2 linked regions of the Homo sapiens genome follow. The protein of the gene in region 1 purifies or fractionates together with the protein of each later gene. This does not show direct contact. Each region holds a gene or a part of one and is shown on either strand. Other genes may lie near its edges.

Region 1 (3,821 bases):
TTAAAAGCATAATAGGTCGGGCTCAGTGGTTCACACCTGCAATCCTCACACCTTGGGAGGCTGAGATGGGCCGATTGCTTGAGCCCAGGAGTTCAAGACCAGCCTAGGCAACATGGTGAGACCCCCATCTCTACAAAAAAATACAAAAAAAAAAAAACAGCTGAGTCCAGGTGGTGCACACCTGTAGTCCCAGCTACTCAGGAGGCTGAGGCAGGAAGATGACTTGAGCCCAGGAGGCGGAGGTTGCAGTGAGCCAAGATTGCACCACTGCATTCCAGCTTGGGTGACAAAGTGAGTCCCTGTCTTAAAAAATAACAATAATAATTAAAGCAAAAAGCATAGTAAACCCCCAGCAAGGACAGAGGGGCAGTGCCCCAATGTTCTAGGTCAGGGCTGGCTGACTGGGGCCCTTGAGGCAGATATGAAGTTGGGAAATCACCCCTGGGAACTCTCACTACACAGGCTTGAGGGCAGGGAGCTCGCCTGGATTGGTCTCAATGTCCCAGGTGCTGATCCCACTGCCAGGCACAGAGTCGGCACTCATAATTCATCTGCTGAACAAATGCTGGCCCATGAGGAGCATTGAGGGTGTGCTTTAATGAGTAAGATTGTCTCACTTATGTGCTGGCAGGAAATGGTTCTGCAAAAGGAAGAAGAAACTGAAAAAACCACAGAGATGTGAGGCCGACCCCCGAGGGTTGGTGTGCTCGGCACAGCTTTTGGGAGCTAGCCGAGACAGTCTGCTGCGATCCTGTGGGTCTGCCCTGCCTGGGCCACTGTCTCTGAGAGACTAGCACTGGAGCGACTGGGGGAAACAACACGGGGTGGGGGGTGGGGGTGAAAACTGTGAGAATGGCTGCTTTCTAGATATCAGCACTGTGCTGGGAACTCTCCAGGCCCAGTATTTTTTTTAATCTGCCTGACAACTCTAGGAGGTAGTGATTCTAATTCCTACTTTCCAGAGGAGAAGACTGAGGATGGACAGTGTAAAGAACTCACGCAAAGGCCGGGGGGGCGGTGGCTCACACCTGTAATCCCAGCATTTTGGGAGGCTGAGGTGGGCAGATCATTTGAGGTCAGGAGTTCGAGACCAGCCTGGCCAACATGGTGAGACCCCCGTCTCCACTAAAAAAAATTAGCCAGGCATGGTGGCGGGTGCCTATAATCCCAGCTACCTGGGAGGCTGAGGCAGGAGAATTGCTTGAACCCAGGAGGCAGAGGTTGCAGTGAGCCAAGATCACGCCACTGCACTCCAGCCTTGGTGACAGAGTGAGACTATGTCTCAAAAAAAAAAGAAAAAAAAAAAAAGAACTCACGCAAAGCCACACAGCTGACAAGTGACAAGGCTCAGATCTGCCTGACTTCCCAACAGGGGCACTTAAGCCCTTCACAGACAGGGAAGCAAGTATTTAAACCAGCGACCAAATAGCAGATTTCTGTGGAGTATCAATGAATTTGAAGCATGTGAGTGACTGGGGAAAAGAAAGGGGGAAAAAAAACCATTTTATTCAAATACACTCAGAATTGTTTCCAAGTGTCAAAGACAAACAAAGCCAGACATAACTTAAGACAGCAAAAACAGATTTGATTCAGTCTCTACTGACAGCAGGGAAAGAGCTGAGCTCCATTCCAATTTGTGCAGAGGTGACTGACATTGTAAAGGGAGATGGAGGAGTAGGGAGACGGGTGAGCGAGGGCTCATAGAGTCAGGGAGGTGAAATATTACAAAGGATTAGTCCCTGAATATGCGATGAGGCCAGCTGTGTCTGCTAGCTGGCAATTATCAAAGTTAGGATTCTAACCTCCCACGGATATTGGGGACAGAGGCTCTATCCTTCCTGATGATTATATTTCAAAGGACTGGCTCTCAGGTCCTTGAGGAAGGCACTTCAGAGTTGTAAGGGATATACAGTCAGCCCTCCATATCCATGGATTCCACATCCATGGATCCAATCAATTGTGGATTGAAAACATTTGGAAAAAAAATTTTTTAAAGAACAATAAAAAATAATACACATTTTTAAAATACAGTATAACTACTTACATTGCATTGAGTATTATGAGTAATTATGAGTGGCTCATGCCTGTAATCCTAGCAGTTTGGGAGGCCAAGGCAGGTGGATCACTTAAGCCCAGAAGATTGAGACCAGTCTGGGCAATATGGTGAAACCCCATTGCTACAAAAAAGAAATACAAAAATTAGCCGGGTGTGGTGGCGTGTGCCTGTAGTCCCATCTACTCAGGAGGCTGAGGTGGGAGGATCCCCTGAGCCCAGGAAGGTTGAGGCTGCAATGAGGTGAGATCACATTTCAGTGAAGCACCTCTGCACTCCAGCCTGGGTGACAGAGTGAGATGCTGTCTCGAAAATAAAATAAGTACATGGGAGGATGTGCACAGGTTATATGCAAATATCATACCATTTTATACAAGGGACTTCAGCATCCATGGATTTTGGTGTCCTCAGGGGGTCCTGGAATCAATCCCTTCCCCACCCATGGATACCAAGAGATGACTGTATCTATGTTTCAAAGGGACAGAGGAAGGATTCATAATTATAAGTCCTTTGTAATAAACAGTCTAAGAAAGGGTCAGGGTCTTTGTCAGGTGTTCGTTAGAACAAATGGTAAATTCTCCTGGCAGCAGAGAGCTTTCTTAGGCAGGCATTTATCGGGGGGCTAGGGTCATCCTACGGACACAGCCTTATTTTGCCAGAAGCAGTGCTAGAGCTTGGTCATCTATTAGAGCAGGGGCTGGATGGCGTTGTTGTGTGCCAAGAGTCCTGCAGCTTTCACAAGTCCACTTTCTTACAGAGCAAGAGCTAGAGACAGACAGAGGAGAGTCTTTCCAGACAGACAGAGTCAGATGAGAAGGAAGGAGGGAGAGGAAGAAAGAAAGGCAAGTTATTGGGTGACCTGCAGGAGATGAAGTTCAACAAGAGAGGCTCCAGGACAAGGGACAAACTAAATAAAACTGCCTCCCCTGAGTCTTCCCCATTGGCTTGAGTTCTGACCCCTCAGAAGCATAGCAGAGGGCCAACCACTTCCTAAAATTGGGGTCTTCCAGATTGATTTTGTGGCTTCTGCACAGCCTATAGAAGAGCTTTTAGATGTATGATAAGGCAGCCCACCCCCAATCCCCTTCCGACACCCCTCCCATTCAGAGATAGGTCTACCCTCCTCAGCTCAACAGAGGGGAGACCCTGTCAGCAGGGTTCCCACTGAGTACCAGAGCATGTCCCACCGTGCCCCAGTGCCCAGCATGGCCTGGCAGTCTCTCAGTTAATAGCGTGGTCTCCCTCCTGGGGTACTTGTTTCCAGAAGTTGTGGATTTTCCTTACCCATCTCCCCTTTTTATCACCTCTCCTTCTCCTATCATACAACAGAACAGCTAAATCCTCCCACACCCTGAATCTACGGTGCACAGGCTAAGGTGTAAACACTCCTAGTCACCAGTAAGGGAGGATTCAAGAATGCATTGCTCCTAAACAAAGAGGGCTTCAGAAAGGAATATGCAACCACGTCGAGGCTCCTGCCTCATCTGTCTGCTGCTTTAGAATGAGAATTCTAAAGTGAGATGGTTATCATGAAACTGTGCATTAACACACTCATTTGAATTGAAAAATTGTCAGTTTTTTTCTGAACGTCAAAATAAGCCTGATTAGGCTGATTGGTTTGACAATAACACCTGGCTCGGCTATTTAAACTACACGGAAGACATTTTTCCCTAACTGAATGAGCTAAATGTGCAACTCCAAGATTGTGAAGAAAACATGTACACAAATATGTAATATGCAATATACCAAAATCCATCCTTTCCTTTAC
Region 2 (3,821 bases), on another chromosome or scaffold:
ATGTGCGGTTATTTTATGCATAGCTAAGAATTTTAAAACATCGATAACTAAATGTAACATCCTTTTGAGTTGTAAGGATCCTTTAAGTTCATCTTACGAATTTGATAATCTTTGACAAAATATTGCACCTTAGAACTGATAAAATATGTTAAGTTGTAGAGCTAGGATTAAATTTATTTCAAAGCCTTTTTCTGCTGTATGTGAGAAATGGTTACGCATGTAAACTGTTCAGAATAAAAGTATTAGGAAACCCCCTTTCCCTCCCCAGCATACATCCTAATATTAAAAAAGTTTTGGCATTAATGAGTTTAACAAAAATATCACAAAATATTTTTGAGTATGTGTTACTTGTTAGGCAAGTGTTACATACAGAGATGAACAGAAATGAGGTTGTGGCATCAGGTAACCTCTTCTCTAATGGAGCACGTACATCTGTATGAACACCTGGCAGAATTCTTTATTTTTGTCATAGAGGTACAGCTGAAGGATTCTAGGAGCATGGAGGGGGGAACAGTTATTTTAGATGGAAGAGATAGCAAACTTGAGACATTGGGGTCTGAACTTGACTTTTTAATGCAAACAGTAATATAAAATGGATGTTAATGATATTTGCTGCATTGGAACTCATGCCTAGAATTATGAGAATGGAATTTCATACCTTTTTTTTGAAGAAACAATTCTGATATAAGTGGCCAGAGTAGGGGCAGTATTTTATGTCAAGCAAATGTATCTGCCTGAGAACCCAGAAGTTGAAGATAGAACACAATTAAGAACATTTAGATGTTGTTTAAAGAAAAAACAAAGTTGTAACTCAAAACAAACAGCTCGTCAGTGATGTAATAATACAAAAATCACAGAACTGCTAAGAGAGGCAGGAGGTAGTCGTGATGGAAGAATTTATCCAAACAACAGATTTGTTGAGCTATAAATGTAACACTTTGTGAATTGCTTTAGTCATAGTTTCATTTTAGAAGGTTTAGCAGAAGCACTGTAATCGTAGTACTTTATGTTTTTAATGGTCTCTCTCTTAGCAGAATCAAGTAGTCTTAACAAGCTTGTAATTAGCACCATGTTATTGAAGTAAAAATAAACTTGAGAGAGAGCGAGTCTGTTGTAAGAATCTCACCTACCAAAAAGAGAGAACTCTGGGCTTAGTTAATTACTCTATATATCAGTTCCAAAATTTCACAGCTTAGAATAATAAGATCCCTTTGAAAGGAATAGAAGTTCTGAAAAACCTCATTGTTCAAAAATGAATCTAATGAAGAAAAGAGAGTGGTAAAACTAGAACTGTTTTTATAAGGTAGATAGTATAAAACCTATGAGAGATTTAGAATGCAGATCTCGGCTCACTGCTACCTCCGCCTCTCAGGTTCAAGCAGTTCTCTGCCTCAGCCTCCTGAGTAGCTGGGATTACAGGCATCCGCCACCGTGCCCTGCTAATTTTTCTGTATTTTCAGTAGAGACGGGTTTCACCATCTTGGCCAGGCTGGTCTTGAACTTCTCACCTCGTGATCCACCCGCCTCAGCCTCCCAAAGTACTGGGATTACTGGCGTGAGCCACTGTGCCTGGCCTGTTTTTTCTTTGTAGCATTTTTTATTAATGCCAATTATCAGTGAAAATCTAGATTCATTTAACTGACTGCCATTATGTATTTTTCATGCTATAATTTATTTATTAGTCCTCTGTAGTTTATATTTTCACAATTGAAAATTTACTTGATTTTACCATTTTAATATTTTAGTCCCTTCCTTTTATGGAGCTGTTCTCTGCTTTTATATAAAAATGAGTTTATACAAATGTTTAATTTTGGATTGATTACTTTATAAATGATTTAACATGGAATTTCTTTTATGTATGGCTCATGTTTTTAAACATGTAATTGTGATGTTTGCTGTGTTTACATTTTCATTCATAACAAAAAGTATCTCCCAATCTTTGTGTGTTTGTATATGTTCTCAATAGGCCACTCCTCAGGATAGTCAGGAAGGAACCTTTGGGTCAGAGCATTCAGCGTCACCATCACAAGGGAGTAGTCAGCAGCATTTTCTTGAACCTGAAGTCAATTTGGATGATTCCATAGATATTCAGCAACAGGTAAAAGTAAATGTTTTTCTGGGTCATAAATTTCTAAAAGTAGCTAAAGAAATCATAAAATATTTTATACTAGCAGTGCCCTGAATATATTTTTCCCACACTTAAGCTCCACTTTGTAATTGTTTCACCTATTAGGCCAAGCTTGTCCAAGGCCTAAGCATGGCCCCTAGGCCAAGCACATGGCCCAGAACTGCTTTGAATGCAGCCCAACACAAATTTGTAAACTTTCTTAAAACAATATGAGATTTGTTTTTGCGATTTTTTTTTTTTTTTAAGCTTATCAGCTGTCATTAGTGTTAGTATATTTTACGTGTGGCCAAAGACATTACTTCTTCTAATGGGGCCCAGGGAAGCCAAAAGATTGGACACCCCTGTATTAGGCATTAATGCTCCCATCGTCAATATTTTTAAAAACAGAATTGTCAATGTATAACTCTGTCTCAACCAGCCTTTCTGTTTGTTTGCTGTTCTTTTGACTTTCAAGGATATGGATATAGATGAAGGGCAAGATGGAGTGGAAGAGGAGGTCTTTGAACAAGAAGCTAAGAAAGTGGCGGTTCGCTCAAGATCAAGAACACATTCACGATCTCGTTCAAGGTTCTACAATGATATTTAATAATAGCCGTGTGTGAACTTTAAAATGTTGGCTTTATTTCTTTGCATCAGGATGAAAGGAAATGTTTCCTTGGGATGACATATTTTTTCTCAGTCTCTCGGAAAAAAAGTTATTCCAAAAACAAGATAACCTTTGTTCTGTTTTAATTGGTATATCTGTGGCTATTTATTTCAGTAATTTACATAAGATTGGCAGCCATATCATGAGACAGGGATTTTGAATTATATTTTATTTTAGTTAATATTATGATGACACCCAATTTAGAATATTGTTGCCCCTGAACAACAGTTAAGTCAGGCCATATTTCCTGGATTCCACTCATCTCACAGTGATACCAAAAATGGTTATAAAAATGAAACTACAAAATTTATTTTTATAAACATTAACTGTAATACCAAACCGTTAGGAAACAGTTTTCTTTATGAGCTTAACTTAAAGACATCAGTCTTTAACATTTTTGTATCCTATTTTTTGCGTATGAATGCCCCTGAAAATCTGAACAGTAAATGGTGTAAGAGGGGCAGTACGTTTGATGAGTTTTTCAGTCATTTCTTTTTCTTGTCACAAAGTTCTTTATATTTATCTATTGCAAATGAGAGCCTGTCAGTTCAACTTTCTCTAAACCCACCGCGTATCACTGAATTATTTTCCTGAAGCATTAACAATCTTAATGCTGAAGATATCTTCATTTGTCATTAGCAGCATCTTACTAAGCATTTTGAAGAGAGCTCAATGGCATGTGGTTGACAGGCAAAAAAGAAAGTGTTTCAGTGTCACCTTCTACAAGCACCATAAAATTTTATAAGTTGGAAACTACTAAGCAGAATTATGTAGTGGCCTAATGCTCTGACACTTAAATGGTCTTTTAATTTTCTTTGGTCTTTCATTCCTGTTCTTCTGTTTGAAAAATGAGTTGGAATGCACTAAGAGAAAGTGAGGCCCTTTCTAGAATCTTTTTCCTCTTCATTGTGAATAGTCACCCATACTCAGAATCATTGCCAACTAATATGGACCTAAGCAGCACACGGATTTAAGTAAAATGCATTTTTGAGACTTGATTTTACTTCAGAATATTTTAACATATTGTCACTAAATATAAGACAACTT

The links.
Region 2: the proteins of PLAAT2 (region 1) and SCAF8 purify together in Homo sapiens (affinity purification with mass spectrometry; one large-scale study listed by BioGRID and IntAct). This does not show direct contact.

What each region holds. Positions count from the first base shown.
Region 1 is NC_000011.10:63,553,344-63,557,164, forward strand, and holds part of PLAAT2 (phospholipase A and acyltransferase 2), read right to left. Parts: intron 1-3,821. UniProt on the Homo sapiens protein: Exhibits both phospholipase A1/2 and acyltransferase activities. Shows phospholipase A1 (PLA1) and A2 (PLA2) activity, catalyzing the calcium-independent release of fatty acids from the sn-1 or sn-2 position of glycerophospholipids.
Region 2 is NC_000006.12:154,806,104-154,809,924, forward strand, and holds part of SCAF8 (SR-related and CTD-associated factor 8), read left to right. Parts: intron 1-1,966; coding exon 1,967-2,098; intron 2,099-2,582; coding exon 2,583-2,695; intron 2,696-3,821. UniProt on the Homo sapiens protein: Anti-terminator protein required to prevent early mRNA termination during transcription. Together with SCAF4, acts by suppressing the use of early, alternative poly(A) sites, thereby preventing the accumulation of non-functional truncated proteins.